4 linked regions of the Homo sapiens genome follow. The protein of the gene in region 1 purifies or fractionates together with the protein of each later gene. This does not show direct contact. Each region holds a gene or a part of one and is shown on either strand. Other genes may lie near its edges. The genes, in order: BPIFB1, ZC3HC1, CRHBP and OGFOD3.

Region 1 (7,954 bases):
TGGAGTAAGCACAAGGGCATCCTGGAATTGGAGGGGAAAAGTCAGAAAACAGGTTTCTTTAACCTTTTGCCTTGTGGTTTATGCTGGTTTTGTCCTCCATAAGGTGACTGCTGGCACCGGGGGACCATGACCCTGAACCCACAAATACAGAATTCTTAGAAGGGTCGGGGTGGAGGGTCTGTGTGTGAACATTAATGCCACACCAGGTCCTGATGTCATCTCCATTTTGCAGATGGGGACACTGAGACTTGAAGATGGCAAAAGCCCCTTTCCAAAGTCACGCACTCAGTAGGTGGCAGAAGTGGGATTTGCACTTAGCACCCGCCTTGATCACCCCCTGCTTTGGGCCCCTCCTCTGCATGAGCTAATGACAGTAAGGTGTCCATCTCAGTTAGCAGGCATTTACTAAACACCTACTGTGTGCAGCCACTGATCACAACAGAGAACAAAGCAGACAGAAACCCCTGCCTTCTTGAAGTTTTGGCTCCACTCTAGAGGGGGAGAGATGCCCCAGAGCCTGGCACACAGTGACTGTGAGCTGTTCTTCTTAAGGGTAGTATTTGGGAGCGAGGGTGACACTGCCATAGATCCTCTCCCCAGCAGATGCCACGGAGAGTCATTTGCTCACCAAGCATTTATTGAACACCTACTGTGTGCCAGGCCATGCTGAGCACCGGGGACAGAGGCATGGACAAGATGGACATGATCCTGGCCTTGAGCTGAGACCATCTGGCCACATGGTGTGTGTGTGTGTGTGTATGTGTATGTGCATGTGTAGTGTGTGTATGTGTGTATATGTGTATGTGTGCGTCTCTGTGTATGTGTGTGTATGTATGTGTGTATGTGTGTGGTGTGTGTGTAGTGTGTATGTGTGTGGTGTGTGTATTATGTGTGTGTGTATGTGTGTGTGTAGTGTGTATGTGTGTGGTGTGTGTATTATGTGTGTGTGTGTAGTGTGTATGTGTGTGGTGTGTATGTGTGCAATATGTATGTGTGTGTGTATGTATATGTATAGGTGTATAAAGGTGTGTGTGTGTATGTATGTGTATAAAGGTGTATGTGTTTGTATGTGCGTGTGTATGTATGTGTATAGGTGTATAAAGGTGTGTGTGTGTATGTATGTGTATAAAGGTGTATGTGTTTGTATGTGCGTGTGTATGTATGTGTATAGGTGTATAAAGGTGTGTGTGTGTATGTATGTGTATAAAGGTGTATGTGTTTGTATGTGCGTGTGTATGTATGTGTATAGGTGTATAAAGGTGTGCGTGTGTGTGTGTATATGTGTGTGTGCATGCATGCATCTCAGGCCTATGAGGTTACCTGCCTTGGATGTTGCCTCAGATCCTGGGCCTCCTTCCTCATCTTTCCTGGAACACCAACAATCCCTGCCTCAGGGCCTTTGCACTTGACATCTGATATGGTTTAGATCTGTGTCCCCGCCCAAATCTCATGTAGAACCCAATGTTGGAGGTGGGGTCTAAGCTGATTGGATCATGGGGCTGGTTTCTTGTGAATGGTTTAGCGCCATCCTCTTGGTGCTGTTCTCGTGATGGTGAGTGTGCTCTTGTGAGATCTGGTTGTTTAAAAGTGTGTAGCACCTCCCACCCCTTGCTCCTGCTTGGGCCATGTGATGTGCAGTCTTCCCCTTTGCCTTCCGCTATGATTGGAAGTTTCCTGAAGCCTCCCCAGAAGCTGAGCAGATGCCAGCATCGTGTTTCCTGTACAGCCTGCAGAACCACAAGCCAATTAAACCTCTTTTCTTCATGAATTACCCAGTCTCAGGTATTTATTTTCTTTCCTTTTTTTTTTGGGGGGGGGATGGATTTCACTCTTGTTGCCCAGGCTGGAGTGCAATGGCGTGATCTCAGGTCACTGCAACCTCCGCCTCCTGGGTTCAAGCAATTCTTCTGCCTCAGCCTTCCGAGTAGCTGGGATTACAGGTACCCGCCATCACGCCCAGCTAATTTTTGTATTTTTAGTAGAGACTGGGTTTTGCCATGTCGGCCAGGCTGGTCTCGAACTCTTGACCTCAGGTGATCTGCCCACCTTGGCCTCCCAAAGTGCTGGGATTATAGGCACAAGCCACTGAGCCCAGCCTCAGGTATTTCTTTATAGCAGTGTGAGAACGGCCTAATACGCTGTCCCTCTGACGGGACACTTCTCCCAGCTACCCACAGGGCTCACCCCTCACCTCCTCAGGCATTGGCTCAAATGTTACCTCCTCAGAGAGGCCCTCCCTGGCCACCCCATCTGAAACAGCACCCCCTTCCCTGACATCACTCTCTCCTCCTGAGCCTGCTTTATTTTTCTTCTCAGCCTTCCTCCACTCAGCCTGATGTTACATCTTTAGGGCTTGTGTATCTGCCTCTTCTGCTAAAAGGTAGGCTTGAAAAAGATGGGAGTGTTTTCCATTTGTTCATTTCGGTGGCCTCAAGCACTCAGAAGCATGGCTTGCCTATAGAAGACCCTCGAAAAATATTTAGTGAATTACTGAATGAATGAATGAATGAATGAATGACAAGGGGGTGGAAAAAGTGTACTGACCCCAGGCTAGGAGGGTTCCATCCTCAGCACAGCCAACCTTCTCACTTGCAGATGAGGAGGTGAGGCCCTGAGAGGGGAAGGGACTTGCCCAGGGTCACCTGTAGGCTGGGGTTGGAGTGCAGGCCCCACCTCCCAGCCAGGGCTCTCAGTGGCTGTGCCCTCCCTGGGGCAGGATGTTTAGGGCCACACCCACTCACCTTGGTCAGTGAGGACTCAGCTGCCTCGAATCCCAAGGCCTTCACCAATGACACTGGGACCCCAGATCTTAATTTGCCTGAAATAACAAATGTGGTCAGAAACTGATGGGCCTGGGGTGAGACTGGGCAGCCAGGGGCAGGCTCAGGGTTCCTGAAGGGGAGCCCCGGCCTGGCAGGCCTGATCAGACAGCCCCCTCTGCCTCTGCTCGCCTGTTCTCTGGCCCCAGCATTGACCCAGCCTCGTCTACCCTCCCTTTGCCTCTGGCACTGGCTTCTGGCCCCTCACAAAATGCAGTCCTCACATTCTCTTACGCTCTTGCTCAAGAACCATCAGGGGCTCCCATTATCCCCAGCAGAGGTTTCTATACTTTGAGATTTTTCCAGTCTAATAAAATAAAGAAATTAAAAAGGTGGAACTGTATAGGTTACAAACCCTTCCCACCCCTCATTCAACCTGGGGCTGAATTAGAGTGTTGGGCACTGACTGTGCCAGGCACCTCCTGATTTGTGCCTCTGAAGAAGGTACTTCTACGTCCCCATTTTACAGATGGAGAAACTGAGGCTCAGAAGGATTGTGCAGCTTGACCAAGGCCAGGCACTAGCAAGAGGGGGAACAGGGTCTGCTGAGGCGCCTCCAGTTGTCTCTTACACCTCTGTCATTGCTCTCATTGTCTGCTTATGCCTCTGTCTCCTTCCAGCCCTGCAAGTCTGGCCCACTGCTTGGTTCATCTTTACGAGCCCAGCCTCTGGCACTAGCAAAGGAATTGGGCTGAGAAGGTTCTTGGGAGGAGGCAGATTTTGAAGTAGGCTCTGAGGGATGGCTGGGAGATGAATGAAAGGGGCCCCATTCATGGAGATGAGGGCAGGGGAAGTAAAGCCAAGCCCTGGGGAGAGAGGGGGCACAGATGGCAGAGGTATGCACCATTCTGGTTCGGCAGCAGGATGGAGTGGATGATCTCAGTGATGATGTTTTTCAGAACATCAGGCTGTGAGAGAGAGAAGGGGCACTGTCACCCTGGTTGAGCATCTGAAGTTCCCCCCCATCATTCTTCGTGGGTGTGGCTCCTCCCCATGGGTGAGGTGGCTGGTGGAGATGTAGGAATTCCAGGTCCCCTGCTGATCAGAGCTGTGGGGGCTCCCAGGGACCAGATGGGCTGGGTTGGGGCATGAACTCAGCCGCCCCTGGGGCCTGGTAGATGGGGGGATTGGGGTGCATTGGAGGATGCCCCATCCTCAGGGGCCCCACCACTCTGTTGCAGCTGAATTTGCCCTGAGGGAATTTTGCCCTGCATTGCCTGAACTTCTGACTTCTGGAGGGAAGCCAGAAGTCCTGATTTGCATGTGGAACTCTCCGTGTTTTAAAATATTAGTCACCGGGCATGGTGGCTCATGCCTGTAATCCCAGCACTTTGGGAGGCCAAGGCGGGCAGATCATGAGGTCAGGAGATCGAGACCATCTTGGCTAACATGGTGAAACCCTGTCTCTACTAAAAGTACAAAAAATTAGCCGGGCGTGGTGGTGGGCGCCTGTAGTCCCAGCTACTCAGGAGGCTGAGGCAGGAGAATTGCTTGAACCCGGGAGATGGAGGTTGCAGTGAGCCAAGATCACACCACTGCTCTCCAGCCTGGGCGACAGAGCGAGACTCCATCTCAAAAAAAAAAAAAAAAAAAGTCAAAAATAGTGAAAAACAAATCATAAAAACCAGAGAAAACACGCCAGACTGAGGTATTGGGGTTCGGTCTGAATCCCAGCAGGAAAGGGCTGTCTAGGGGCACTGAGGCGCGTCTACGTGTGCAGAATGAGATTGTGAGTCAAGGGCACTTGTGTTCTAATTCAGGATCAAAACTTCACTGAAAGAAAGTGTGTATCTGTGAGTGTATTTGTGTGTGCGTGTGTGTGTTCTCAGCTGTGTCTGACACGTGGTGGCTTCTCTGTAAACACTCGAGGGAAGTTGGACTTTGGTGGAGACCGGCCAGCCCCCCATGGTGCTTCTGTGGGGACCTTGTTTGAAGCAAATCCTGGGCAATATCTGTTTTGAGAGTGGACCATTCCAGGCCACCCCCTGTGCCCTCAGGCACCACCTGTTAACACTTACTTGGAACCAGCCAATCCCAGAGTTCATCAGCTGGATCCGATCAGAGCTGCAATGGAAGATGCCTGTGAGAGCGGCCCCTGAAGTCCCACTCATTCACCATCCACTCATTCAACAGCGATTTATTGAGCACCTATTATGTGCCAGGCACAGTGCGGGCTCCAGTGAACCACATGAAGCCCTTGCGTCGTGGAGCTTGCATTCTAATGGCAGGGGTGGGGTGGGGGGCATAGAGGGGGCACAGAAAACAAATAGCAGTCCAGTGAGCAGAAAAATCAACCTCAGGAGTCAGGGCTGTGGTGGACAAGGAGGCCCAAGCTCCTTCAAAGGGCGCCCCAATTCCTGGCTCGACAGTTTGTTGCTATGTAGGATTGTGGGCACAGGGCAGCCAGATAGTCTGATTTGATATGTGCACAACTCATTTATATTAAACAGCCCAGCCCTATGTGGGCTGATCAAAAGAGCCCTGGGCCTGACTTGTCCCCAGAGGCTCCAGCTGGCAGCCCCTGCACTCACTCTGGGGCCACAGGAAAGTGGCGGGGAGGGAGAACAGGCAGGGTGCAGGAGGCAGCTGGAGCCCTGCACTTCTGTGCCGGGTGACTGTCACTGCCACGGCCTGGGAGGTGTCCAGAGTGGGCTGGCCGCGGCTAGGGTTTGCCTGTGCCGTGGCTGCTGCAAGGCCTACTTCATTTTCCTCCCCATTCCCTCACATGCAGTCCTTGTCAGCAGGAGCATCCGGAAGGACCTCCCTGCCTACCCTGGAGCCGCCTTCACCTGACAGCCACAAAGTCGGTGTTTAAAGAAACCCATGGTTACCAGGCGGGACTCATTTCCATCAGCAGAATCTTCATGATGATTTGTGTGTTTACCTGATGTTATTCAAGTTGAGTATAAGTTGGTCACCTTTGGTGTAAAACTGAGCTTCCGAGCTGGCTTCCTGCAACAAGAGAAGCCCAGGCCCCATTGTTCTCAAGAGGATCCGAGTGTGGAATTAGGGGTTATGCAGGGAGGCTCTGGGGTCTGAATCTCAGTTCCTGGCTCTGGGACCTTGGCAAAGGGTTTGACCTCTCTGGGCCTCACCTGCCTCATCTGTTAAATGAGATAGTACTTGCCTCCACTCCCCATTTAACAGATGACAGTCTAGGCTTGCTGTGGGGAATGATAATGATGACGATGACGACGACGAAAGCAGCCACTATTCATAGAGCCCTCACTCCCTTACCCTAGTGTGTAGGTGGCCCAGCTCAGGAAGTTTTCATATTCCATTTTTCTGGACACACTGATTGGCTCAAGAATGGGCAACTGACTCAGGCTCATTCAGTGAGAGTCAGCCCTGAGATGTTTGCTGGAACTATTGGAAAGATAGGTTCTTCCTGCGGTGATTGCCAAGCTGATAGGATATGAGCCTAATGCAGCCTGGGGCACTACCATGAGGGAATAGCTTGCCTGAGGATGAAGGCAGCACAGAGGAAAACAAGGCTGCTAGGTGGGAGAGAGGAGAATGAAGAGGATATTGTTTGAGCACCTGGGTCCAGCTATTCCCGAAGTCAATAGCATCTAGACTTTTTAGTTATAGGAGCTAATACAATTCCTTTTGTGCATATGAGTTGAGTTTCTGTCCAGAGATTCCTGACTAAGAAAGTCACAGGGTTAGAATTGGACCCACAAAGCTCCTGGCTCTTGGTTCAGAGCTCCCTGTCCCCTGTCCCTGCTAAGTGATGAGAGTGGTGGAAATGTTTAACAAAGCAAGAGGGCGAACAGGAAAAGTAGACAGAAGGGTCCCCCTGGTTGCTGCCAATATCGCAGACAACTGAACTCACGATGCCCAGGGTGAACAAAGGGCGGAGGGCTTCACTGGAGGGAAACACTTCCAGCACGATCAGTTGGGCCACCTTGGCATGGCCTTGGTCTATAAAAAACTCGGGAGTGTCCTGAGTTAGGATCTTCACGATCTGGGTAGATCCCAGCTTATCTGCAGCCTGGAAGGAGATCAGACCCACATGTGGCCTCCCAAGTGCCCACCATGGCCCACAGGCTCTGTGTGTGGCCTGGCCCCTGCCTGCCTTCCTGGGCTCCCTGCTCCCTCACGTGTTCCAGCCACCCTGTCCTTCTTGCAGATCCTTGAATGTTGTGTTGTTCTCCCTACCTGGCAGCCTTTGGTCTCCTGTTCCCTCTGTCTGGAATGCCCTTCCCTTCAGGGAGGCCTCCCTGACGTCCCAGACTGTATCAGGGGCCCAGAGTGTTCTCATGGCCCCTAGAACCTGTCCTGTGTTACTGCAGCTGTAATGGAAATACTATCCATGTGATGATTTGCTTCAGGTCAAACTGGCCTGCTAGACTGAAATCTCTGTGCGGACAGGGATGCGGTTTGAGTGTCCCAGTGCTGGAATGAAACACTAGTCCCACTAGATTCTCCTCCCCAGAGGCCTGTGTCCAGACCACAGCAAACACCCCTCAAGCTGCAGATGGCAAACAGACCAACCTTTTCATTGATCAGCCCGATGCTTGACTTCAGCCGATGGGCACTCTCAGGAAGCTGAGGGTGAGAGGAGCCAGAGAAGGTCAGTTGGAGGGCACAGGGAGGCACATCTCCTGCACCCCACTGCTGGGAGGAAGGTTTCCCAGGACCCCAGAAAAGCTGGGTGGGCCCAGTGACCCAAGCCATGTGTCTGTCATTGGTGGAAAAACAGCCCCTAGGTCAGCTTCTATGGGGCATGGGGTCCTGCTGGCCTGGACTTTTACTGTGGGCTGGTGATGGTTGTGGGTCTGGGGGCAGCTTCCTGATCTCAGAGGACATAGAGAGGTGATTTCATTTTTACTGCAATCATGAATGGGCTAGTTGGTGACCACTCCCTATTTTCTCGCCATCCCAGTCCCCTGAGAGCTTGGTTATTGGTTGTCTGTCAGCTGCCCTGAAGTTCTGCCATCCTCCCATAACGTTGGACCAACCCTTTCCCCCTCTGGACCTCAATTTCCCCGTCAGTCACCCGGGAGGAGGTGGCACAACATAGTTGACTGGTGGTGGTTATCGGCTGTGCCCTGTTAATAAGGATTCCAAGGTTGTGTCAGCATCCAGACTCAGTAGAAAGGAGAGCCTTGATCGATTAGTGATGTCTGCCA
Region 2 (7,954 bases), on another chromosome or scaffold:
CTAGGTTGGTCTTGAACTCCTGACCTCAGGTGATCCGCCCGCCTCGGCCTTCCAAAGTGCTGGGATTACAGGTATGAGCCACCATGCCCAGCCGTGTTTTTTATTTTTTACAGTTTACACCAATATAATCTTCCAATTTACTTTTTCCACAGACCGATTTGGGATGTTGCCCCTGGATGAGCCTGCTATTCTTGTTAGTGAATTCCTAGATCGTTTTCAAAGCCTTTGTCACTTGGACCTCCAGCTTCCTTCCCTAAGGCCGGAGGACTTGAAAACTATGGTGAGTTTTTCCTGACTAGGCTGCAATGGCCTCCAGTTGTTGCCAGCATTTATACCTGAAGCATTTCTTTTAATGACAAGAAGATGCAATTGCTGTGAAGAGAACTGCTTGTCTGTCTCTCATCTGACCTTTTCAGTCTCCACCAGGAAGGTGACAGTTGAGAGTTCCATTTGAATGTTTAGGTATGTTTTTTTAAATGGCATAGATTCAATTTAACATATATGTATATAAGCAGTTTATTTGGGCCAAGTTTTAGGGCTGTAACCTGGAAGCATAGATTCAAGTTTGCCCTGAATATATGCTTCCCATAAATTCAGTTTTATCTTGATTTATTACTTAAATTATTATTATTATTATTTTGAGACCGAGTCTCTTTCTGTCACCCAGGCTGGAGTGCAATAGTGTAATCTCGGCTCACTGCAACCTCCACCTCCCAGGTCCACGCAATTCTCCTGCCTCAGCCTCCTGAGTAGCTAGGATTACAGGCGTCTGCCACCACACCTGGCTAATTTTTGTATTTTTAGTAGAGACGGGGTTTCACCATATTGGTCAGGCCGTTCTCAAACTCCTGACCTCAGGTGATCCACCTGCCTCGGCCTCCCAAAGTGCTGGGATTACAGGCATGAGCCGGCACACCCAGCCTACTTAAACTATTTAACAGAAAATACTGAAATGTGACTGCATATGGTTTATTGCATATCTTTTTTTTTTTTTTTTTTTTTTTTTTTTTTTTTTTTTGAGACAGAGTCTTGTTCTGTCGCCAGGCTGTAGTACAGTGGTGATCTTGGCTCACTGCAACCTCCGCCTCCTGGGTTCAAGCGATTCTTCTGTCTCAGCCTCCCAAGTAGCTGGGATTACAGGCACGTGCGACCACGCCTAGCTAATTTTTGTAATTTTAGTAGAGACAGGGTTTCACTGTGTTGGGCAGGATGTTCTAGATCTCCTGACCTCGTGATCCGCCCACCTCGGCCTCCCAAAGTGCTGGGATTACAGATGTGAGCCACCACACCCGGCCATCATTTTTCAAAGAAAGTAACAAACTCCTTTCTCCTTGTGAGTAGAAATGTTTAAATGCTGTAGTCAGCCCGGGCACAGTGGCTCATGCCTGTAATCCCGGCACTTTGGGAGGCTGAGGTGGGTAGATCACCTGAGGTCAGGAGTTCGAGACCAGCCTGGCCAACATGGTGAAACCCCGTCTCTATTAAAAATACAAAAAATTAGCCGGACATGGTAGTTTATGCCTGTAGTCCCAGCTACCTGGGAGGCTGAGGCAGGAGAATTGCTTGAACCTGGGAGACAGGTTGCAGTGAGCCGAGATCGCACCATTGCACTCCAGCCTGGGCAACAAGAGCGAAACTCCATCTCAAAAATAAAATAAATGCTCTAGTCAATCTGTACTTTGAAACTGAATATTTACTGTTCCATTTAATCACCCTATGGGTACTCCATGAAGACAAGCTTTACTGTAGGAAATAGTAGCCTCTTCAAATTAAGAGAGTGGTATGGGTTTTAGCATCAAACTGTTAACCTCCCAAAGTCCCCTCCAAGTACTAACCAGGCCTGACCCTGCTTAGCTTCCGAGATGAGATGAGACTGGACGCGTTCAGGGTGGTATGGCCATAGACTGAAACTATTAACCTCTGATGCTTATGAATATAACCCTGTCCCTAGCCAAGGCAATTTTTTTTTTCCACCTGGTCATAGTTCCTTATTTTTCTTAGAACAAAAATAAAGTCTAACGAGCTTTGTTGTTCTGTCAAAAAGTAAATTTAGAGCCTGGGGCACAGTGATGTATGCCTGTAGTCCCAGCTACTCAGGAGGCTGAGGTGGGAGGATTGCTTGAGCTCAGGAGTTCAAGACCAGCATGGCCAACATAGTGAGACCCCATCTCTAAAATTTTTTTTTCTTTAATTTTTTTTTTTTTTTTTTTTTGATACGGAGTCTTGCTCATTCGCCCAGGCTGGAGTGCAGTGGTGCAATCTCAGCTCACTGCAAGCTCCGCCTCCCAGGTTCACGCTATTCTCCTGCCTCAGCCTCCAGGGTAGCTGGGACTACAGGTGCCCGCCACCACGCCCGGCCAATTTTTTTGTATTTTTAGTAGAGACGGGGTTTCACCATGTTAGCCAGGATGGTCTCGATCTCCTGACCTTGTGATCCACCTGCCTCGGCCTCCCAAAGTGCTGGGATTACAGGCGTGAGCCACCACGCCTGGCCTCTTTAATGTTTAAGTAAATTTAGTGTCAGGCTAAGACATAAGCAGTAATTTGTCTTCACTATTTGGGTTTGAAGTTTGCAGGTTTCAGGGAAAATCTGCAGCTGGTAAATTGAACAATTTAGTACTAACAAGAGTTTTGGCAGTTCCAGGGAGACTCCATCTTTCTCAGTCAGCAGATTCAGGGCAATTCAGAAAGCTTCTGTGTGATACTATAGCCCTGTCCCTGGAAGTATTTTGTTCTCTGTGAAGAGAAGTATCTTCATGTTTGTAATTTCCTTCCTGATTTTCGGCTTGTACCATCTAGGTATGTTATAATGTGTAATTTTTCTTTTTATGGTGGTTGAAACGAAGTTTTTTACTTGGCTCCCTTGTAGTGCTTGACAGAAGACAAGATCAGTCTTCTCCTACACTTGCTTGAAGATGAACTTGATCACCGAACTGATGAGAGAAAAACTACAATCAAATTAGGCTCAGACATCCAAGTCCACGTCACTGCCTGTATTCTCTCTGTGTGTGGCTGGGCGTGTAGGTGAGTCAGCAGATTTTGCCTGGAGACATGAACCATGACAACAGCATTACACCCATATATATCAGTCACTAATCGTATTTAGAAATCACATGGTGTTTCCCGTGAGAAAAAGAGACAAAGAAAAACTGGGTGGGGGATGGTGCGAGGAGAATGGATAATAAGAATTAGTAACAAAACCAGAATTGGAATTCAGGAATTCTTGGTGTTCACAACTGAACTTTGTTTCTTGTACTGTTGCTTCTTAACTGGGAATTTGTGTTCTCTTTTTTTTTTTTTTTTTTTTTTTTGAGACGGAGTCTCATTCTGTTGCCCAGGCTGGAGGGTAGTGGCGTGCGCGATCTCAGCTCACTGCAAGCTCCGCCTCCCGGGTTCACGCCATTCTCCTGTCTCAGCCTCCCGAGTAGCTGGGACTATAGGTGCCTGCCACACGCCCAGCTAATTTTTTGTATTTTTGGTAGAGACGGGGTTTCACCGTGTTAGTCAGGATGGTCTTGATCTCCTGACCTCGTGTTCTGCCTGCCTCGGCCTCCCAAAGTGCTGGGATTACAGGCGTGAGCCACCACACCAGGCTGAATTTGTGTTCTATAAACAGTGAACCTCCTTTCTAAAAATGGAAAGAAAATAAGCTCTTTTCTATTTTTAAGAAGGAAAAATAGAAAGGAAGTTCTTTTCTATTTTTAGAAAGGAAGAAAAATCCGCTTAATTGATAAAAACTACCATAGGAAACACCAGCTGGAGTCTTCTAGGCCCCCATGTTGCTATTTCCATTCCAGCTGCTCAATTTGGCATAGACTCCCACTATCCTTAATCTACCAAAGAGAGCATATTTAAAATACATCAAGATTGGTTCTGACAGTAAATAAATCTTGATGTATTTTAAATATGCTCTCTTTGGTAGATTAAGGAATGTTTTTTGTTTAAAGGGAAAAGACTTTAAGAGGGACAAGAGAGGGTGGGTACGGTGGCTCACACTTATTTAATCCCAGCACTTTGGGAGGCCAAGGCGGGTGGATCACCTGAGGTCAGGAATTCGAGACCAGCCTGGCCAACATGGTGAAACCCCATCTCTACCAAAAGTACAAAAATTAGCCGGGCATGGTGGCGGGTGCCTGTAATCCCAGCTACTCAGGAGGCTGAGGCAGGGGAATCACTTGAACCTGGGAGGCGGAGGTTGCAGTGAGCTGAGATCGCACCATTGCACTCCAGCCCGGGCAACAAGAGCAAAACTCTGACTCAAAAAAAAAAAAAAAAAAAAAAAAAAAAGAGGGACAGGAGAAACTTTTTGTGTTGTTGTTGTTGTTGGTCAGGCTGGTCTCGAACTCCTGACCTCAGGTGATCCACCCACCTTGGCCTCCCAAAGTGCTGGGATTACAGGCATGAGCCACTGCACCCGGCCGAGAAACTTTTAAAACATGCCTGCAAAACAGTCTTACCATAGAGAGCACACTAAGAACCCGAGGTCTTTCTATGGGAAATATGTGAGAGATGATGAAGTATGAAGCTGGGTCCTGAGACTGGAGCACAGAGGCTCTGATAGGACATGGTGACTGTTCCAGAAATTGGATGAGATAAGGCATACTCACAAGACATTGCACTTAGTCATTTGGAAATGTTACACTTTGAGAAAACTCTCTTTTTCATTCCTATCTAGTTCCTCTTTGGAATCCATGCAGCTCTCCCTGATAACATGTTCGCAATGTATGAGGAAGGTGGGGCTCTGGGGCTTCCAGCAGATTGAATCGTCCATGACTGACCTGGATGCATCCTTTGGCCTGACCAGCTCCCCAATCCCAGGCCTTGAGGGGCGACCAGAGCGCTTACCTCTGGTGCCTGAATCTCCTCGGAGGATGATGACCCGGAGCCAGGATGCCACTTTCTCCCCAGGCTCAGAGCAGGTATTCACTTAGCTTATTTGGGGTGGAATTTTAAACAACATTCTTGGCAAAAGTGTTGTTGGTAGAAAGTTGGAAATTAATTTAGGTGGATAGGCTTCTCTTCCCACTACATTGGTTACGATACCACATAGTGTTTCTGTTCACTAATGGGGAAGCTAAATTCAGCCAGACCCGGTGGCTCACGCCTATGATCCCAGCACTTTGGGAGACTGAGGCAGGCAGATCACTTGAGGTTAGGAGTTTGAGACCAGCCTGGCCAACATGGTGAAACCCCGTCTCTACCAAAAATGCAAAAATTAGCCAGGTGTGGTGGCAGGCACCTGTAATCCCAGCTACTTGGGAGGCTGAAGCAGGAGAATCACTTGAACTCGGGAGGCAGAGGTTGCCATGAGCCAAGATCGCCTCACTGCTCTCCAGCCTTGGCAACAAAGCGAGACTCTGTCTCAAAAAAAAAAAGAAAAAAGATTAAAGAAAGAAGTATTTCTGACCATAATCATTAATATCATTCGTGTACTTCCATTATCTCCCCTTTCCTTCAGGCTGAAAAGAGCCCTGGTCCCATTGTCTCTCGAACTCGGAGCTGGGACTCTTCCAGTCCTGTTGACCGTCCTGAGCCAGAGGCTGCTAGCCCCACCACCAGAACTCGCCCAGTGACCCGAAGCATGGGAACAGGAGACACCCCTGGCCTGGAGGTACCATCTAGCCCTCTGCGGAAAGCCAAGCGAGCTCGCCTCTGCTCCTCCAGCAGTTCGGTGAGTCCACCTCGCATGTAGCAGTGGCTGAGCATAAACAGCATATTGGGCCCTCCCTAGGCAGCATGGAGAAGCAGGCAGGAGCCCTTCCGTGGTCCAATGCAAAAAGTAGACCATGTGAATAAATTTAAAGTTGGATGACCAAAGGGAAAAAATGTCAGTCATGTTTTTTGCTCCTTTTTGTTCCTTTGGAGTGGATTCTGGAGAAATAATAGATATTTCAGGCAAATGGAACAACGGTGTGATACAGGGACAAACCTGATCTGGCAGCGGTCCCCAACCTTTTTGGCACCAGGGACCGTTTTCATGGAAGACCATTTTTCCACGGACCACGGTTGGGAGGATGGTTTCGGGATGATACGAGCACATTACATGTATTGTGTACTTTATTTCTATTATTATTATATTGTAATATATAATGAAATAATTGTACAACTCACCATAATATAGAGTCAGTGGGAACCTGCAGCTTGTTTTCCTGCAACTAGATGATCTCATCTGGGGGTGACGGGAAACAGTGACAGATCATGAGGTGTCAGACTCTCATAAGGAGCCCGAAGTCTAGATCCCTCTCATGTGCAGTTCACAGTAGGGTTCCTGCTCCTATAAGAATCTAATGCCACTGCTGATCTGACAGGAGGCAGAGCTCAGGTGGTAATGCAAACAATGGGGAGCAGCTGTAAATTCAGATGAAGCTTTGCTTGCCCGCCTGCTGTTCACCTCCTACTGTGCGACCTGGTACCCATCCATGGCCTGGGGGTTGGGTATCCCTTATCCCTTGTGATAAGGTATAGTTTGTTTAACACAAAAGGAGTGAAAAAATAAAGAAAATGAGAGGAAAATGTGTAGGCAAAGTTTGAAGGAGAGCATAAACACTCGAAGTATGGGTAGTTGTGAGATTCTGGACTTGATAACTAACAGCAGTGCCTCCCTGAACTTACATAGCATCTACCTATGAATGCTATTTCTTTTTCTCCTTCCTCAGGACACATCTTCCCGAAGCTTCTTTGATCCCACCTCTCAGCATAGAGACTGGTGCCCTTGGGTGAATATCACACTTGGCAAAGAAAGCAGGGAGAATGGTGGAACTGAACCAGATGCCAGCGCCCCAGCAGAGCCAGGCTGGAAAGCAGTGCTGACCATCCTCTTGGCGCACAAACAGTCTAGCCAGCCAGCTGAAACGGACTCCATGGTGAGATACGCCACTGCCTTGTGTGTGGGCAGCACTTGCTGTTTATGGGAGGTGGAGCAGAGGCTGGGCCTATAATTAGCACCCCGCCTGCCTTCAGCTTTCATACGTCAAGTTATTTGGGTTTTTTTGTTTGTTTGTTTGTTTTTTGAGATGGAGTCTCGTTCTTGTTGCCTAGGCTGGAGTCCAATGGCACGATCTCAGCTCACTGCAACCTCCGCCTCCTGGGTCAAGCGATTCTCCTGCCTTAGCTTCCCAAGTAGCTAGGATTACAGGCGCCCACCACCACACCCGGCTAATTTTGTATTTTTAATAGACAGGGTTTCACCATGTTGGCCAGGCTGGTCTCGAACTCCTGACCTCAGGTGATCCCCCCGCCTCGGCCTCCCAAAGTGCTGGGATTACAGGCGTGAGCCACCGTGCCCGGCTTATACGTCAAGTTAGACTCATTCTGCTTTCGTCCTAGGGATTAGGCATAGAACCGGTTCGTCTTTCTGTAGTTTAGCATATGGCATTCCGTCAAGTTCTGATAAATTCTTTTGTTCTCCTAAATAAAGTGACTCCAAGTAGAAAAGGAGTACGGAAACAGAAATAGATGAACAGGCAGCTGCTCCGGCCTCATGTTGCAGACAGCTGCTTTTTCTTTCATTTGCTGTCACTTGCACTTGGAGCCTGGCCAGTTAACTTAGCTGTTTGGAGCACTGGGCTCTGACACCAAGATGATGGCCTCATTCCGCACGCTGGGCACATTACTTTACTCTGTTCCACAGCCCAGACTGTGACTCTGCTAGCCATTGCAGCCATAACTGCTGTGGGTTACAAATGTGGGTGACAACTGAGAAGAAAAGTCAAGTGTTTGCTCTGTGTAAAGATTGGAAGTGATAGGCTGGGTAATATGGAACCATGAAAACTGGGTTCTCTCCTTCGCTGGCTCACTCCCAAATTTTCCTTGTAGCTGGTAACAATTTCTGATCGTAGTCTATAACTTTCAAGGACAAAGTAAAATAATACTTGTCAGCAGATATTTATGAGCAGCACTCCTAGATTCATGGTTTTCTAGGGTTACAGGATTCCACTGGAGGGAACTATAGTAA
Region 3 (7,917 bases), on another chromosome or scaffold:
ATTTCAGTTGGTGATAAGTGCTATACAGAAAATGCAGCAGAGTAGTGTGGTAGACAGTGACTGGGAGCATGGGGGTGGATGGAGAGGCGCGGGGCTACTTGTGATAAAGTGGTCAGGAAAGAAACCTTTTGAGAAGTGAGACCTGGGTGATAGATCAGAAGGAACCAGCAGCTGTGAGAACAGGGAGCAGAGGGAACAGTGCAGGGGCTCAGAGGCAGGAATGGGCTTGCTGGATTCCAGACATGGAAAGAAGAGGAGGATTGGCATAAAACAGCTTCAGGGAGATGGGCAGGGCCAGAGTGTGGTGAGCCCTGCAGGCCACATTAGGGAGTTTAAGTGCAGTGGTAAACCACTGAAAGAGTTCAGGGAGGAAAGCAACATGATCTGATGTATGCTGTCTAAAACGTCACTGTGGCTTCCATGCAATGAATGGGCTGTAGGGCCATGCCACCCTTTTTATGGCTCTGGTGAGATGTTTCTTTAGTTATTATTAACATATCTATCAAGATTATTTTCTTAAACCTCCCAGATTTCTATGTATTGGAAGATGAGTTCCACCAAAATAAAACCAAAACCAAAAAACCTTCAATTTTGCACATTGAGTTGGTGTGAGGATCTTACATTTGGTACAAGGAATGTAAGTACTTTTTATTGTTTTTTGTTTTTTGTTTTTTTTTTGAGATGGAGTCTCGCTCTGTCGCCCAGGCTGGAGTGCAGACATGCAGTCTCGGCTCACTGCAACCTCTGCCTCCGAGGTTCAAGCAATTCTCCTGCCTCAGTCTCCTGAGTAGCTGGGATTACAAGCATGAGCCACCACACCTGGCTAATTTTTTTTTGTATTTTTAGTAGAGACAGGGTTTCACCATATTGGCCAGGCTGGTCTCAAACTCCTGACCTTGTGATCTGCCCGCCTCGGCCTCCCAAAGTGCTGGGATTACAAACATGAGCCACTGCTCCTGGCCAAGTACTTTTTTGGTACATTATTGTGGGCTAGGCAAAAGATAGTAGTGGCTTAGAACCTGAACAAAGAAATTTAGGGAATCCCTGTTGAGAAACTGAACTTGAGAGGTCCCTGCATAACTCAGTTTCTGCCATTGTAAGAAAAGCTGAGAGGTTTGCAAAGAAGGGAGAAAAATCATTGAACAGCAAGGAATAAGTGCACTTAACTTTCTTGTTTCTTTGTTTTGTTCCCCTCACTTTAGTTTCTATTTCTTCCTAGCTTCTTTATTTCCTACTTCTCTCTCCTGAGTCTGCCTTTTTGCCTGCAACAGCACCTGCTGAATTTTGGAACCTATAAAACTAAGTGGAAAATTTAGTTGTAAGAGATGTTCCTCCTGGACATCCTCTACTCAAGGGAAAGGCAATTAAAGTTTTTTTCCTTTACTGCTAAATTGCTTATTCCACTCTCAATACAAGAACATGAAGCCCTGTATACAGTGGGGCTAATTAAACCTCTTTCATCATTTGATGCAATTATGTATAAAGCCTCTAAGCATCAAACCCAGTACATAGTAGGTAGGCCCTTTAAAAATATGTATCCCCACCTGCCCCTGCTCATTAGTGAAGCAGTTGCCATTATGTTATTTTCCAATTTGCTGTTTAGTTCCAGTTGTATTCCAATGCTCTTCTGTGTTTTTTTGTTTGTTTTGTTTTGTTTTGTTTTTTCGGAGACAGAGTCTCACTCTGTCGCCCAGGCTGGAGTGCAGTGACGTGATCTTGGCTCACTGCAACCTCTGCCTCCCAGGTTCAAGTGATTCTCCCACCTCAGCTTCCCGAGTAGCTGGGACTACAGGTGTGTGCCACCGCGCTTGGCTAATTTTTGTATTTTTAGTGGAGACGGGGTTTCACCGTGTTGGCCAGGCTGGTCTCGAACTCCTGACCTCAAATGATCCACCTGCCTTGGCCTCCCAAAGTGCTGGAATTACAGGCGTGAGCCACCATGCTGGTCAGTGCCCTTCTAAATGCCTGAATGTGTGTGCTTATGTGTGTGTGTGGGTGTGTGTGTGTATTAAGTTCTCTATTTTAGATTTTGGTTCCTATGTGTTAAGGTCTATCTAGTGAAGTACTGAGCACCTTGTCACATTCTACTAGATCTCTTAATGAGCACACTTCAATGAAAAAGAGGATCACAGGCAAAATTGTGGGGACCAGTACAAATGAAAATGTGGGAGCCCTTATTACAATTTTATGAAAATGCAGCAGAACATTAAACCAAGCATAGAGCCCTTCTAGGCACTGGCTTTTTGTGGCTGCACAGGTGGCATACTTGTGAGACTGCCCTGGGGAGATGGGGGCTCAGAGTACTTTTGGGACTAAGAGTGGTTGCTTTGTTTGTGTTGGAAAGTGAGGCACGGGGATTGCTATGGACAAGACAGTGTGGAAAAAATGAAAAGGCTGGGTGAGGTGGCTCACACCTGTAATCCCAGCATTTTGGGAGTCCGAGGCAGGAGGATCCCTTGAGGTTAGGAGTTCAAGACCGGCCTGGGCAACATATCAAGGACCCATCTCTACAAAATTGAAAAAAAAAAAAAAGGGGGAAGCAGGAAAAGGTGATCATGGTGGACCACACAAAGCTTTAGAATGAATTCTTTTGAGTAGCTTGAAATAAATTTGTTTTAGTTGAAAGGAGAAAGATCATGGTAACTGTAGCTAACTTGGGCCCCAAATCAGGGTTTTATTATTTCTTTAACATACTCATAATTAATCAAAATTCTTATTGTTAGAAATGAGGTGTTCCAATAGCACACAAATTTCCTTTACAAAGAAGAAGAAAAGAGATGAGGTGAAGGAAAAACGGATGTGAAAGCCCTATTTATAAAATGTAGGTATTTGACTTCGCTTAGCTGTGACTGCATGCATTAAGAAATTGGAGTGATTCAGTATGTATGTCCAAATGATTTGAAAAGTAAAGCATTTTTTGGTTGAATTTCCACACATCTTATATGGAGTTTACAGATTTCCATTTTATCATTCCAGTCCTTGAGCTTAAAAAAAATGAAAAAAACATGTACACACATTTCTAAAAAAAATGATTACTCAACTGATTTAGAAAAGCAATTTTTATGATTTTTTCTCTTTTAAATGTCTTTTAATTTCCAGAGTCCCAGATGTTAAATTAAATGGTATTGCCAGGATGTTGAGGGCTGATTGAGTGAATTCATGGACCCGCTGTTGGTCAAATGGTTTGACTTCTGTAATTGGTTTAAATGTGTCTTTCTCTGCTGCTTTATTCCCTTAGAAATCCTCAGCAGGTTGCGAGGGAATAGGAGACTTTGTGGAGCTGCTGGGAGGAACTGGATTGGACCCTTCCAAGATGACGCCTTTAGCTGATCTCTGCTACCCCTTTCATGGCCCGGGTGAGGTATTTCTTTGATTGTTATGTATGTGCCTATCAAGATTAAAAAAAAATAAGCACTCCCCTAATATTTTCTACATTGGAAGGTGAGTTTCGCCAAAAAAGCCTTCAATTTTTCACACTGAGCCAGTATGAGGATTTGAGGCTATATATAACATCAGTATCTTTACCAAAATATCCGACACTGGGAGAGAAACCTTTGAAGCAATAAAGGTTGGCCTTAAGTAAAACTATGAAAAAGACAAAGCTTTTAAAATCTGCATTCTTTCCATTTTCTTGGGGGTCTCTGCTTTCATTTTCTAGAGACTAAAGAGTTTACTAACTGAAACACTTATGGTTCAAATAGTAGATGTATCATCAATTAGTAATAGGATAATAATGAAATAACTGTTTTTTATGTATGTGTATGTATGTGTGTGTGTTACTCATAGTAAATAAACAACAAAGTGATAAGCTTTATTAGAAATTCTTAGAACTGCTAAGTCTATAACTTCTTATGGCTAAACTAGCCTCTCAAAGGCCAGTGTAACACAGAGGTAAATTCTGAAATCTAAAAGCGGTCACCAGTAATAGAAGACTGGTTTATTTGGCACAGCATATGCCAAATAGAACCAGATCTATGTCAGAGACAAGTGAGTATTTTCACTTTTTTATGCTCATGTCAGGTGAGGATGGATGGGACTTCATGACCTCATGACCAGATAACTCAATGAAGTCTCGGGGAGGTGGGGGAGAGGAGTCATAAAACATTCCTGTAAAGGTCACTCCCATAGCTTTACTTCAGACACAGGAGTCCTAGATTAACATTAACGAGACAAAACAGAAGAAGAACAGCAGTCTCTAATCTCAGTTAATTCTTACTGTAGCCTCCTTCCTCTCCTGTCACTGCAGATCATTAACCAGCTAGGCAATGAAGCTGCAAAGCAGACAGTCCTCTTGATCAGCTGTTACCTGTAATAATTAAAACCAGGCCAGACCACCAGTATTTTCTGACTCTGAGTTGATGATGGACAAAACATCTCCAAAATAGAATTAACATACAGTCAGCCCTTCTTAACTGTGGGTTCCCCATACACAGATTCAACCAATTGTAATAGAAAATATTCAGCGTAGGCTAGGCGCGGTGTCTCACGCCTGTAATCACAGCACTTTGGGAGGCCGAAGCGGGCAGATTACTGAGGTCAGGAGTTCGAGACCAGCGTGGCCAATATGGTGAAACCCCCGTCTCTACTAAAAATATAAAAAAATTAGCCAGGCATCGTGGTGCACACCTGTAGTCCCAGGTACTTAGGAGGCTGAAGCAGGAGAATTGCTTGAACCCGGGCAGTGGTGGTTACAGTGAGCTGAGATTGTGCCACTGCACTCCAGCCTGGATGACAGAGCGAGACTAGACAGAGTGAGATTCTGTCTCAAAAAATATATATATATTCAGTGTAATTCCTGAACTTTGGGAGGCTGACGCAGGAGGATCGCTTGAGCCCAGCAGTTTGAGACCAGCCTGGGCAACATGGCAAGACCACACCCCATAAAATAAAAAAAAAGAAAAGAATCAGGTAAAAAAAAAACACACAAAAAAATACAGTATAACAACTATTTACATAGCTTTTACATTGTATTAGGTACTATAGGTAATCTACAGATGATTTAAAGTATATGGGAGGATGTGTGTAGTTTACATGGAAATAGGTAAAGGTAAAAGGTAGCCATTTACATAAGGGACTTGAACATCTGTGGATTTTGGTATCCGTGGGATGGGGAGCATCTTGGAACCAATCTCCTGAGGATACCAAAGGATGAATTATACAAAAGTCAGCACTAAAGCCTGATATGCACTCCACCCTCCCCCAGATACACCTATATTCTAAAAGTTTCAGATGAGATTTAAGGTAGGAGTGGGCTCAAAGCAAGCTTTCTAATCAAGGTAAAGGCAAAAGATTTCCAAAATCCCACTTTGCGGAAAACTAGAGGATTCTCTAATGCTAATTGACACTTGAGCCATGGTTTAAACTGTCAGTGCATGCGGCTTCTTTAGCCTTTTGGGTGCATGATCTGAGGCACTAAAGTACTTCCATGCTCATGATTGGAGAGCACCTTTGAGGAGATATACCTCAGCTGGGTTAAAAAGTAAGACAAGGATTAAAGAACAATCAGGCCTTACAATTTAGATAATTGAAGCCAAAGTCATTTTTCCGCTTGAGTGATATAACTTGAATTAGAAAAAAAGGTGATTCTAAAGCCAGAAAACCACTTTTGCCTACATTACCTAGGTAACTGAAACCACTTTTAAGACAATTTTAAGGCTTGAATTATATCACTCTTTGGTTCATTTTAGACTTTATTCCGTTACTGGAAGGAGGGCCTTGAGTGTAAGTTGTCCAGGTTCTTGGCGTTTTGAACAAAGAATTGGACAAAACGCACAAAGTAACAAAGGAATGAAACACAGGAACAAAGTAGCCGAAGCAGGGATGTATTAAAGGGAGAAAGCACTCCGCAGGGTGGGAGTGGACCCTAGCGAGCGGCTCAAGGGCCCGGTTACAAAAGTTTTCTGGGTTTCAAGTACTCCTTTCTTTTGTTTTGAGATGGAGTTTCACTCTTGTTGCCCAGGCTGGAGTGCAATGGTGCGATCTCGGCTCACCGCAACCTCCACCTATTGGGTTCAAGTGATTCTCCTGCCTCTGCCTCCCGAGTAGCTGGGATTACAGGCATGTGCCACCACGCCTGGCTAATTTTGTATTTTTAGTAGAGATGGGGTTTCTCCATGTTGGTCAGGCTGGTCTCGAACTCCTGACCTCAGGTGATCTGCCCACCTCGGCCTCCCAAAGTGCTGGGATTACAGGTGTGAGCCACTGCTCCTTTTGAGGTTCCTATCAATTACCCTTTATCTGGATGAAGGATTTGGTTTGTGGGTAAAGGCTGAGGTGAATTGGCACCCTATGCAGATGAAGAGATAGCCCATGCTTGTTCCACGGCCAGTACAAGGCACTCTCCCTTTCCTTGTGAGATGTGGTGGAAGGGGAGGGTTGTAGGGAGACTAGCCTTTGATCCGTCGCTACTTGGGCTTGGGGGAGATGCGGTTTTTCCTTTTGGTTCAGCTTTAGGAAGTTTGCATTAATTGGGCTTAGGTTCCCTGCCCCCAGACCCAGGTGTTTTCCTTTTGATCCAGCTTTGGGAAGTCAGCACAAATTGGCCTCAGTTTCCCTGCCACCAGGCCTTGGTGTTTTTCCTTGATTCAGCATGAATTGACCTTAAGTTCCCTGCCTCCAGACCCTATTCTCCTGCCTTAATTCTTTTCTTTCTTTATCATATTTCCATGAGCCCCTCCTGAGTTGTTCAGTGTTGAACTATTAAGGACCCTGCCCTTTACATTGGATTTTGTTAGGAATTAGTTCAAAATAATAAATAAATAATAAGTAAAGAAAATAGGACATGTTATAAAGATTAAAGTCCAGAGTAAGATCAGAAAAAGAATGACCTCCAAACTGTTTAATGAAAAATAAATTTGGCTGGGTGTGGTGGTTCATGCCTGTAATCCCAACACTTTGGGAGTCTGAAGCGGGCACATCACTTGAGGTCAGGAGTTTGAGACGAGCCTGGCTAACATGGTGAAACCCCATCTCTATTCAAATTCAAAAATTAGCCAGGTGTGGTGGCACACAACTGTAATCCCAGCTACTGGAGAGGCTGAGTTAGGAGAATTACTTGAACCTGGGAGGCAGAGGTTGCAGCGAGCCAAGATGGCACCACTGCACTCCAGCCTGGATGACAGAGCAAGATCCTGCCACAAAAAAAAGAAAGGAAAGGAAAAGAAAAAGAAATTTGGACCTCCTGGTAGAAGCTTAACTAGACTACCTGGTACTTATATTAAAATAATTATAGGGCTTTTATTTATTATGTCATCCATTTGACTTTTATCTCAATAACTCTATTGAACTGTTTACTTCATTTAAACCCAGGTATGTGTTTGAGTGGTACCCATTACACGAGGACAATGATAGCATTTCTTAAAATTTAAAAACACCTTATAGAGACAAAGTGAGGAAAAGAAAGATTGAGAAAACTAAAACAGCAGAAATGATTATTGTAGAGCAGATAAATCTTGCCTCAGGAATCAGCTTGGATAAACAAATAGAATAAATAAAAGGAAAGTAATTCTTAATAAAAGTAATATGAGTTTCAATATATAACCCATACAGAGGAGATATAAAAGTTGTCAGATCTTATATAAATAATGAATAAGATTGGATTTTTTTTTTTTTTGAGATGGAGTCTCACTTTGTTGCCCAGGCTGGGGTGCAGTGGTGTGATCTCGACCCACCACAACCACTGCCTCCCAGGTTCAAGCAATTCTTCTGCCTCAGCCTCCCGAGTAGCTGGGACTACAGGTGCGCACCACCATGCCTGGCTAATTTTTGTATTTTTAGTAGAGACGGGGTTTCACTATGTTGGCCAGGCTGGTCTCAAACTCCTGACCTCGTGATCCACCCACGTCGGCCTCCCAAAGTGCTGGGATTACAGGCATGAGCCACCGTGCCCAGCTGAATAAGATTGGATTTAAGAGAAGC
Region 4 (7,954 bases), on another chromosome or scaffold:
AGGGGGGACTCCGGGGGGCATCTGTGAGGCCTGGAGGGGGCAAAGCCCATGGGAGCTGAGCCCAAGGGGCCTCCTGGCAGCTGGGAGGGGCAGGGGGGAGGGAGCTTGACCCACCGCCCAGGGCACCACCTGAGACTGGGCTTCCTTACAGCGGATTATGTGAGGTGGATATTGGCGGGTCGGACTGGGGGCTGGGCCCCAGCGTGATCCTGCTCTCCTTCCCAGGAGGACTCAGAGGAGGCCACCTTGCCCAGGGGGAGGGCCCGGTGTCTGCCTTCAAGCCTGGGCTCTCTCCACTGCACACGAGGCTCTGTTGTGTGTGATGTACCTAGCTCAGCGCCCGCACAGTGGGTGTCCAGTTCCGCGCTGGTGCGGCTCCATCCCCCTTCCCTCCCCAGAGTGTCTCTTTCCCTCCCTGGTCTGGGTGTGCTTATGACAGCTGAGCTGGGTGAGATGCGCCCTCCCCTTTGCAGCTGGTGTCCTGGCAGCTGCACCTTTCACCCCCAGGGCGTGGCCCCAGCTGGGTTCTGGAATGGAAGCTGAGTGCTGCGACCCCTGAGTGAAGTAAGCCAGTCACGGAGGGACAGATCCTGCCTGATCCCACGTCCGTGGGGACCCTAGAGTCGCCAGGTTCACAGAGACAGAAAGCGGAATGGAGAGGGCAGGACTGGGGGGCGTGGGGAGTCAGTGCTTCCTGGGGACGGAGCTTCGGCCTGGGAGGATGAGATGTTCTGGAGAGGACGGTGCGGTGGCTGCACAACATTGGAAATGTGCTTAACATCACTGAACTGTGCTTAAAAACAGTGAAGACACAGTTAAGCTGGAAAATCTTAGGTTCTGCATTTTATTACAAGTTTTAAAAAGCTTGGGATTGCTCCACTTCTGAAGAAAGGAGAAAAGCGCGTCCACCGCTGCCTCTGGTTCCCACGTGTGGGCAGCGAGGCTGGCACCGGGGGACCATCCCAGCATGCACACCCTGCTGGCTGGCCTGCTGCCCGTAGCCTTTGCTGGAACACGGCTGCTCCAACATCTGAGCTTACAGGAAATCCTGGGCAACAATGCATGAGGCTGGAGACTCTGCAGAGGGTTTTTAAAGTTGCAAAGGAACAAATGGCCTCATTAATGGGGCCGACACATGTTGTTAATTTACCTTCTGGAAAATAAGAAGCACAGATGTTGGTGACTCACGCGCGTAATCCCAGCACCCGGGAGGCTGAGGTGGGAGGATCACTTGGGGCCAGGAGTTTGAGACCAGCCTGGGCATCATAGCGAGACCCGCCCCCCTGCCCCCACCACCCCGCCCCAACCTCTACAAAAAATACAAAAATCAGCCAGGCACAGTGGCTCATGCCTCTAATCCCAGCACCCGGGAGGCCAAAGTGGGTGGACTGATGCCATCTCTACAAAAAAAAAAATAGAAAAGAAAAAATTAGCTGGTTGTAGTGTCGTGCGCCTGTGGTCCTGGCTACCCGGGATGCTGAGGCAGGAGGATTGTTTAAAGCCAGGAGTTCAAGGTTATGGTAAGCAATGACAGTGCTGTGACTGCACTACAGCCTGAGTGATGCTGTCTGTAAAAAAAGCGATACCCTATTAAAAAAAAAAAGAGGCTGGGTTCAGTGGCTCATGCCCGTAATCCCAGCACTTTGGGAGGCCAAGGTGGGTGGATCACCTGAGATCAAGAGTTTGAGACCAACCTGACCAACAAGGTGAAACCCTGTCTCTACTAAAAATACAAAATTAGCTGGGTGTGGTGGTGGGTGCCTGTAGCCCCAGCTACTCGGGAGGCTGAGGCAGGAGAATTGCTTGAACCTGGGAGGCGGAGATTGCAGTGAGCCGAGATCGCATCACTGCACTCCAGCCTGGGTGATGGAGCAAGACTCTGTCTCAAAAAATAAATAAACAAAAAATAAGAGAGAGAAGCAGCACCTGCCCTGGTCGCATGCTGAGAGCCCATTCTGCCCCCTCCTCCCGGCTCTGCCCTCAGGTGACCTACGGCTCCTTCGACTACACCTCGCTGCTGTACCTCTCCAACTACCTGGAGGACTTCGGCGGAGGGCGGTTCATGTTCATGGAGGAGGGTGCCAACAAGACGGTGGAGCCGAGAGCTGGTAGGAGGCGCGGGCGGGGCCTGGGCGTGGGGCTCCTGGCTCAGGCAAGCACGGTGGGTGTGGGGGGCGTGTCCCTGGGAGCGAGGCTGAGTTCACGGAGCATCTGCTGTGTGCCGGGCCGGTGCTGAGTGATTCCCAGGTCTAGCGCCAGTCCCAACACCCAGGAGGCTGGTGTCTACGGGGCCACATGTCTGAGGTCACCGTCAGTCAGCGGCAGAGCCCCCCTCCACGCCCTGGTGTGTGTCACCTTGACAGGCACCATCCATTTCCCTCCCTGGTGTGTGTCACCTTGGCGGTCAGGGTCTCCCTCCCTCCCCTCTGGAGTGCGTTCACCTCTGTACCCTTCTCAAAGAGACTCGCAACCTAAGATTAGACGAGGCCCCAGCCCAGTGTCGGTGACCTAGTGCCCTCCTCGCTGGTGGCTGGAACCTCACCGGGTGGCTCTGCGGTGCCGGCTTCAGAACCCATCACACTGGACCTTGCAGTCCCAGAGTCCCAGAGCCCCAGCCATGCCCAGCCTGCTGCAGACACAGCAGTGCCAGTGAGCATTTGCCGAGCGGACAGTCATCCTCTGCTCCTTGAACTTGTGGGTAACACAAGCCCAGATCCTGGGGTGGGAGGGTGTGGGGAGTGGGGAACCCCTGTTAGGGGCCTCCTCAGGTGGAGCCCACGGCCCTGACCCCAGATGCAGCCGAAACTCGCATAGGCTTGGGAGCCCTGTGGACTGTGCCAGCACCATCCACCCCCCACTGCCTCACCCATCCCCAGGGCACTGCCCTCACCCCCCCCCCCCCGCTGCCTCACCCGTCCCCAGGGCACTGCCCTCACCCCCCACTACCTTACCCGTCCCCAGGACACTGCCCTCACCCCCTGCTGCCTCACCCGTCCCCAGGGCACTGCCCTCACCTGTGGGGTGGCCTCTCAGCACGGGTGTTCCTCCTGCCTGGCCGCTCAGTCAGACCAGGGACTGTGTGACAGTCAGGACTTCTTTCATCTCTTTTAAGATCTCCAGCTTGTTTATTTTGAGATTCCTGTTATTTGTACTTGCCTTTCTCAGGTTAGTTTACGACTTCAGTTTGCAAGCTCAGTTTGAGGGACTCTCTTTCCACGACCACCTGTGGCAGGTGGCCTGAGCTGCCCGGCCACTTCCTGCCATCCTGCCTCCCTCAGCTGCTCCCTGGCCACAGGCTGGACAGTTCCCGCTGTAGCCAGCGGCTGGCCAAGCCCACTCCCTGCAGCCGGCTTCAGGCCGTGTGTGCCGCAGCCCTGGGCACAGTCTCCCCTGGCGTGGATTGGGGGCGTTTGGCCTGACTGTGTCCTGGCCTCACTCTGCCTTCATGTCAGTTGTTCTGAGTCATCTCTGCATTAGGGGAAGGGTTTGGACGTCCAGCCTCTGCAAGCAGGAGCCCAGCCTGTCTGCCCTCACCCCAGAAGTCCCAGTCACAGCAGTTTTGTGGGAAAATGAAAAACTCACAGAGCACAAGACAGGCGTTTTCTTGAGAAGTCAAGCAGCTGAAGCCTCCTGGGACTCGAAATTACACAACTTTTTAGCATATTTTGATCTTAGTCATTTTAAGCATGATAAATACTTGAGTCAAACATTTTGTATTACGATCTTCTTTCAGATAATTAAAACAACCTGTCTCCTGCATGTGTCTGTCTAATTGTATCTATGTGTTTACCTGTGATTTGATGTCATACATGTCTAATTGTATCTATGTGTTTACCTGTGATTTGATGTCATACATCTAATTGTGTGTATCTGTGTGTTTCCCTGTGATTTGATGTCGTACATCTGTCTGATTGTGTGTATCTGTGTGTTTACCTGTGATTTGATGTCGTACATCTAATTGTGTGTATCTATGTGTTTACCTGTGATTTGATGTCGTACATCTGTCTAATTGTGTGTATCTATGTGTTTACCTGCGATTTGATGTCATACATCTGTCTAATTGTGTGTATCTATGTGTTTACCTGCGATTTGATGTCGTACATCTGTCTAATTGTGTGTATCTATGTGTTTACCTGCGATTTGATGTCGTACATCTGTCTAATTGTATCTATGTGTTTCCCTGTGATTTGATGTCATACATCTAATTGTGTGTATCTGTGTTTACCTGTGATGTTGTACATCTGTGTGTTATCTATGTGTTTACCTGTGATTTGATGTCATACATCTAATTGTGTGTATCTATGTGTTTACCTGTGATTTGATGTCATACATCTGTCTAATTGTGTGTATCTGTGTGTTTACGTGATTGATGTCATACATCTAATTGTATCTATGTGTTTACCTGTGATTTGATGTTGTACATCTGTCTAATTGTGTGTATCTATGTGTTTACCTGTGATTTGGAGACTTTTTTTTTTCTTTTGAGACGGAGTCTCGCTCTGTCGCCCAGGCTGGAGTGCAGTGGTGCGATCTCGGCTCACTGCAAGCTCCGCCTCCCGGATTCACGCCATTCTCCTGCCTCAGCCTCCCGAGTAGCTGGGACTACAGGTGCCTACCACCACGCCCGGCTAATTGTTTGTATTTTTAGTAGAGACGGGGTTTCACCGTGTTAGCCAGAATGGTCTCAATCTCCTGACCTCGTGATCCACCCGCCTCGGCCTCCCAAAGTGCTGGGATGACAGGCGTGAGCCACCACGCCCGGCCGTGTCGCAGTTCTTACCATGAGTGGCAAATGCTAGTTTTCTTTGTAGGGCAACTTTATCGAGGAAGGCAGAGTCCTGTGTTCGGGGGTTCCCAAGACCACCTTTAGGTCCAGTGACTCACTGTTGGGACTCACAGAACTCAGCAAAGCCATTATACCCTTGGCTGTAGTTTATTACAGTGAAAAGAAATGGATTAAAATCCACCAAGGGGGCCAGGTGGGGCGGCTCACACCTGTAATCCCAGCACTTGCAAGGCCGAGGCAGGCAGATCGTTTGAGCTCGGGAGTTCAAGACCAGCCTGGCCAAAATGGCAAAACCCCGTCTCTACAAAAAATACAAAAAGCAGCCGGGTGTGGTGGCGTGCACCTATAGTCCCAGCTACTCAGGAGGCTGAGATGGGAGGATTGCTTGAGCCTGGGAGGAGGAGGTTGCAGTGAGCCAAGATCCTACCATTGCATACTGCATTCCAGCCTGAGAAACAGAACCAAACCCTGTCTAAACAAAAACAAAAACAAAAAACAATCCAGCAAGGGGAGAGGCCGTGGGGCAGGTTGAGGAGTGACCAGGTGTGAGCTTCCCACTGTCTTCTCCCGGAGTTGGGTCAACAGCTCTTAGTTCTCCAGCAGTGATGTGTGATGATATTCGGGGGTGTCACTGACCAGGGATGCTCGGCCGAGCCTTGGTGTCCAGGGTTTTTACTGGGGGGCTGGTGGTGCAGGCACGGCTGGCCTCTGTCCCCAGCCCCTCTGGATGCTGAGCTGCTGCTCTGTGGCCCACGTCCCACCATAAGTGACACTGTCAGTGTGGACCATCTGGTGTGGCCCTAGGTCCCTGGTAAACAGAGGTTCTCCTATCAGGCAGGATGTTCTGAGGGCTCAGAGGTCCCCCCTGGGAGCCGGGGCAAAGGCCAGGCCTCTCTCTGGAGGGTGTAGGGTGTGCACCGCCCAGGCCCCTGGAGTCAACCCTTTACCACACAATCCCTGTCCTGTGTCCCCAGGATGTTTTTGTTTCCGGATGATGTCTTGTGGGTTCCAAGAAGTTAATGGACCGAGAGCCAGTGAAGCTGCTGGTGCGAAGGCTGGAGTCAGGTGTCCTCCGGGGACTCACCACCCGCCCGAGAGGGGAGAGACACATGCGATTCTGGAAGCTGAGAGCATTGCTTATTGTTGATTCCTTGGTTGCCGTGCTGAGTCCTGCTTTAAGGAAGCAGGTGATAATCTAATAGTCATTTACTAAAGAAAGTGCATCTTAGGCCGGGCGTGGTGGCTCACGCCTGTAATCCCAGCACTTTGGGAGGCCAAGACGGGCGGGTCATGAGGTCAGGAGATCGAGACCATCCTGGCTAACACGGTGAAACTACATCTCTACTAAAAGTACAAAAAAATTAGCTGGGCGTGGTGGCGGGCGCCTGTAGTCCCAGCTACTAGGGAGGCTGAGGCAGGAGAACGGCGTGAACCCAGGAGGCAGAGCTTGCAGTGAGCCAAGATCATGCCGCTGCAGTCCAGCCTGGGCAACAGAGCGAGACTGTCTAAAAAAAAAAAAAAAAAAAAAGTCCTTTTCTGGCCCCGTATTGATCTCATCTCCGTCTGAGCCTTCAGTAGTGTGGATGGTGGGTGGTTTCCTGCCTCCCACAGCTCACGAGGCTCAGCTGTCCTCCATCCTTCCCCCTGTCCTTTGGTGCCTCTGTTTGCAAGATGTGCAGAAACACCAGAGGGCCAGAGGAGACCCTCCTTTTACTGAATGCTGGCAGCCTCCTGAGAACCACGTCTGCCAGCAGTAGAGAGCAGAGAGTGTGGACGAGCATGGGCGACTGAGGTCCCAAATGGCGCGAGCCGCTGGGCCCTCCTGCTTGTGCCGATGTCTCAGCCTCGATTGAAGCTGGAAGAAACCAAGGACAATGTGTCCTTTAAAAGTGTAAGGTTAGAAGGTGCCCTGACTCCAGCCGACCTGGAAAAGGACGTGTCCTGCATATCTGGAGGTGGCCCACACGGTCCGGGAAAGATCGGCTGCCTTGCCTGCATCCCAGGGCGCTTCCCGGCCTCCATTAAGAGGTGACCATTGCATCCACGTGATTTCTTTTGCTCCACTATTTCCAGGCACAGTGCAACTGACTCCCTCTTGAAGCTAGAATGCCCTGCACACCCGGGATGGACTTCTCTCCCCTTTCAAAGATCGAGTGAAGTTTGCAAATGTGAAAGGAAGGAATTGCATTTCCAGTGGTAACCTTTGAAGGGGAATGAAATTGTCACAGGACGTCAGGAGCCACGTGGGGGAGCCCGGTGTCCTCTGAGTCTCAACGCCCCTTGCTTCCCACTTGGTGACGGTCGATGGCTGTGTCCAGCGGTGAACGCTTTACCACAGGACTCTACGGTGGGGTAGGCAGCGCCACTTCAATGTGAAGACAAATGAACTGGCGTCTCTTGAGATAGGCCCCTGCCTCCAGGACCTCTCAGGCCCCGGGCCCTGGTTACTGCCGTGGAAGCTGCCTGTTCAGACGTCATCTCTATCACCCCTTGAAGGGAGACAGAGAGGTGTTTGCGAGTTGGATGTTTTATCTTGTCTTTCCTGATTCTTTGTTAGAACACCCCCAGGGCTTGGTTTTTGTTCTCAACCTGTGATTAGAAATAAGATCCTAAAGTGTCAGATCTGGAAGGCCCATGAGAGCTGAGGAGATCAAATGCCCGGAGCTCGGGAGATCAGATGACCTGGGGTGTCTGGAGCCAGTGGTGGCCTCATCTGCAGCATCTTCCTCTGTCCTGCCCACCACAGAGTCCCTGCTGGCCCCGGGGGGCCCCTCCTCCGCCACAGGGCCCCTGAGCATTGCTGCGTTTGTTTCTCCAGCTCCTCCTTCCTGCAGAAGCAGTTCCCAGAGGGGCAATTTCTCCAGCCTGCCTGGTTGGTTGTGTTGATTGGTTATAGTTGCTCTTTCAGGTGACCGCAGACCCTCTGAAGGCTGTGGCCGTGGGTGTGGCTCTATGGCCACCTCTCTCTCTTCTCCTCTCCCAGGTCGCGTCTCCTTCTTCACCTCGGGGTCCGAGAACCTACACCGCGTGGAGAAGGTCCACTGGGGCACCCGTTACGCCATCACCATCGCCTTCAGCTGCAACCCCGACCATGGCATCGAGGACCCAGCGTTCCCGTAGCCAGCAGCCGGGCCAAGGTAACTTCAGGAGGGCCCGTGTGGAGGCAGC

The links.
Region 2: the proteins of BPIFB1 (region 1) and ZC3HC1 purify together in Homo sapiens (co-immunoprecipitation; one large-scale study listed by IntAct). This does not show direct contact.
Region 3: the proteins of BPIFB1 (region 1) and CRHBP purify together in Homo sapiens (co-immunoprecipitation; one large-scale study listed by IntAct). This does not show direct contact.
Region 4: the proteins of BPIFB1 (region 1) and OGFOD3 purify together in Homo sapiens (co-immunoprecipitation; one large-scale study listed by IntAct). This does not show direct contact.

What each region holds. Positions count from the first base shown.
Region 1 is NC_000020.11:33,301,775-33,309,728, reverse strand, and holds part of BPIFB1 (BPI fold-containing family B member 1 precursor), read right to left. Parts: intron 7,371-7,954; coding exon 7,317-7,370; intron 6,814-7,316; coding exon 6,655-6,813; intron 5,772-6,654; coding exon 5,704-5,771; intron 4,884-5,703; coding exon 4,838-4,883; intron 3,728-4,837; coding exon 3,664-3,727; intron 2,819-3,663; coding exon 2,742-2,818; intron 22-2,741; coding exon 1-21. UniProt on the Homo sapiens protein: May play a role in innate immunity in mouth, nose and lungs. Binds bacterial lipopolysaccharide (LPS) and modulates the cellular responses to LPS.
Region 2 is NC_000007.14:130,021,228-130,029,181, reverse strand, and holds part of ZC3HC1 (zinc finger C3HC-type protein 1), read left to right. Parts: intron 1-52; exon of another isoform or gene 53-71; intron 72-152; coding exon 153-280; intron 281-2,869; coding exon 2,870-3,024; intron 3,025-4,675; coding exon 4,676-4,919; intron 4,920-5,458; coding exon 5,459-5,671; intron 5,672-6,656; coding exon 6,657-6,863; intron 6,864-7,954. UniProt on the Homo sapiens protein: Required for proper positioning of a substantial amount of TPR at the nuclear basket (NB) through interaction with TPR.
Region 3 is NC_000005.10:76,960,105-76,968,021, forward strand, and holds part of CRHBP (corticotropin-releasing factor-binding protein), read left to right. Parts: intron 1-3,238; coding exon 3,239-3,356; intron 3,357-7,917. UniProt on the Homo sapiens protein: Binds CRF and inactivates it. May prevent inappropriate pituitary-adrenal stimulation in pregnancy.
Region 4 is NC_000017.11:82,392,350-82,400,303, reverse strand, and holds part of OGFOD3 (2-oxoglutarate and iron-dependent oxygenase domain-containing protein 3), read left to right. Parts: intron 1-830; exon of another isoform or gene 831-1,984; coding exon 1,985-2,108; exon of another isoform or gene 2,109-2,716; intron 2,717-3,014; exon of another isoform or gene 3,015-3,423; intron 3,424-5,760; coding exon of another isoform or gene 5,761-5,933; exon of another isoform or gene 5,934-5,973; intron 5,974-7,769; coding exon 7,770-7,906; 3' UTR 7,907-7,954.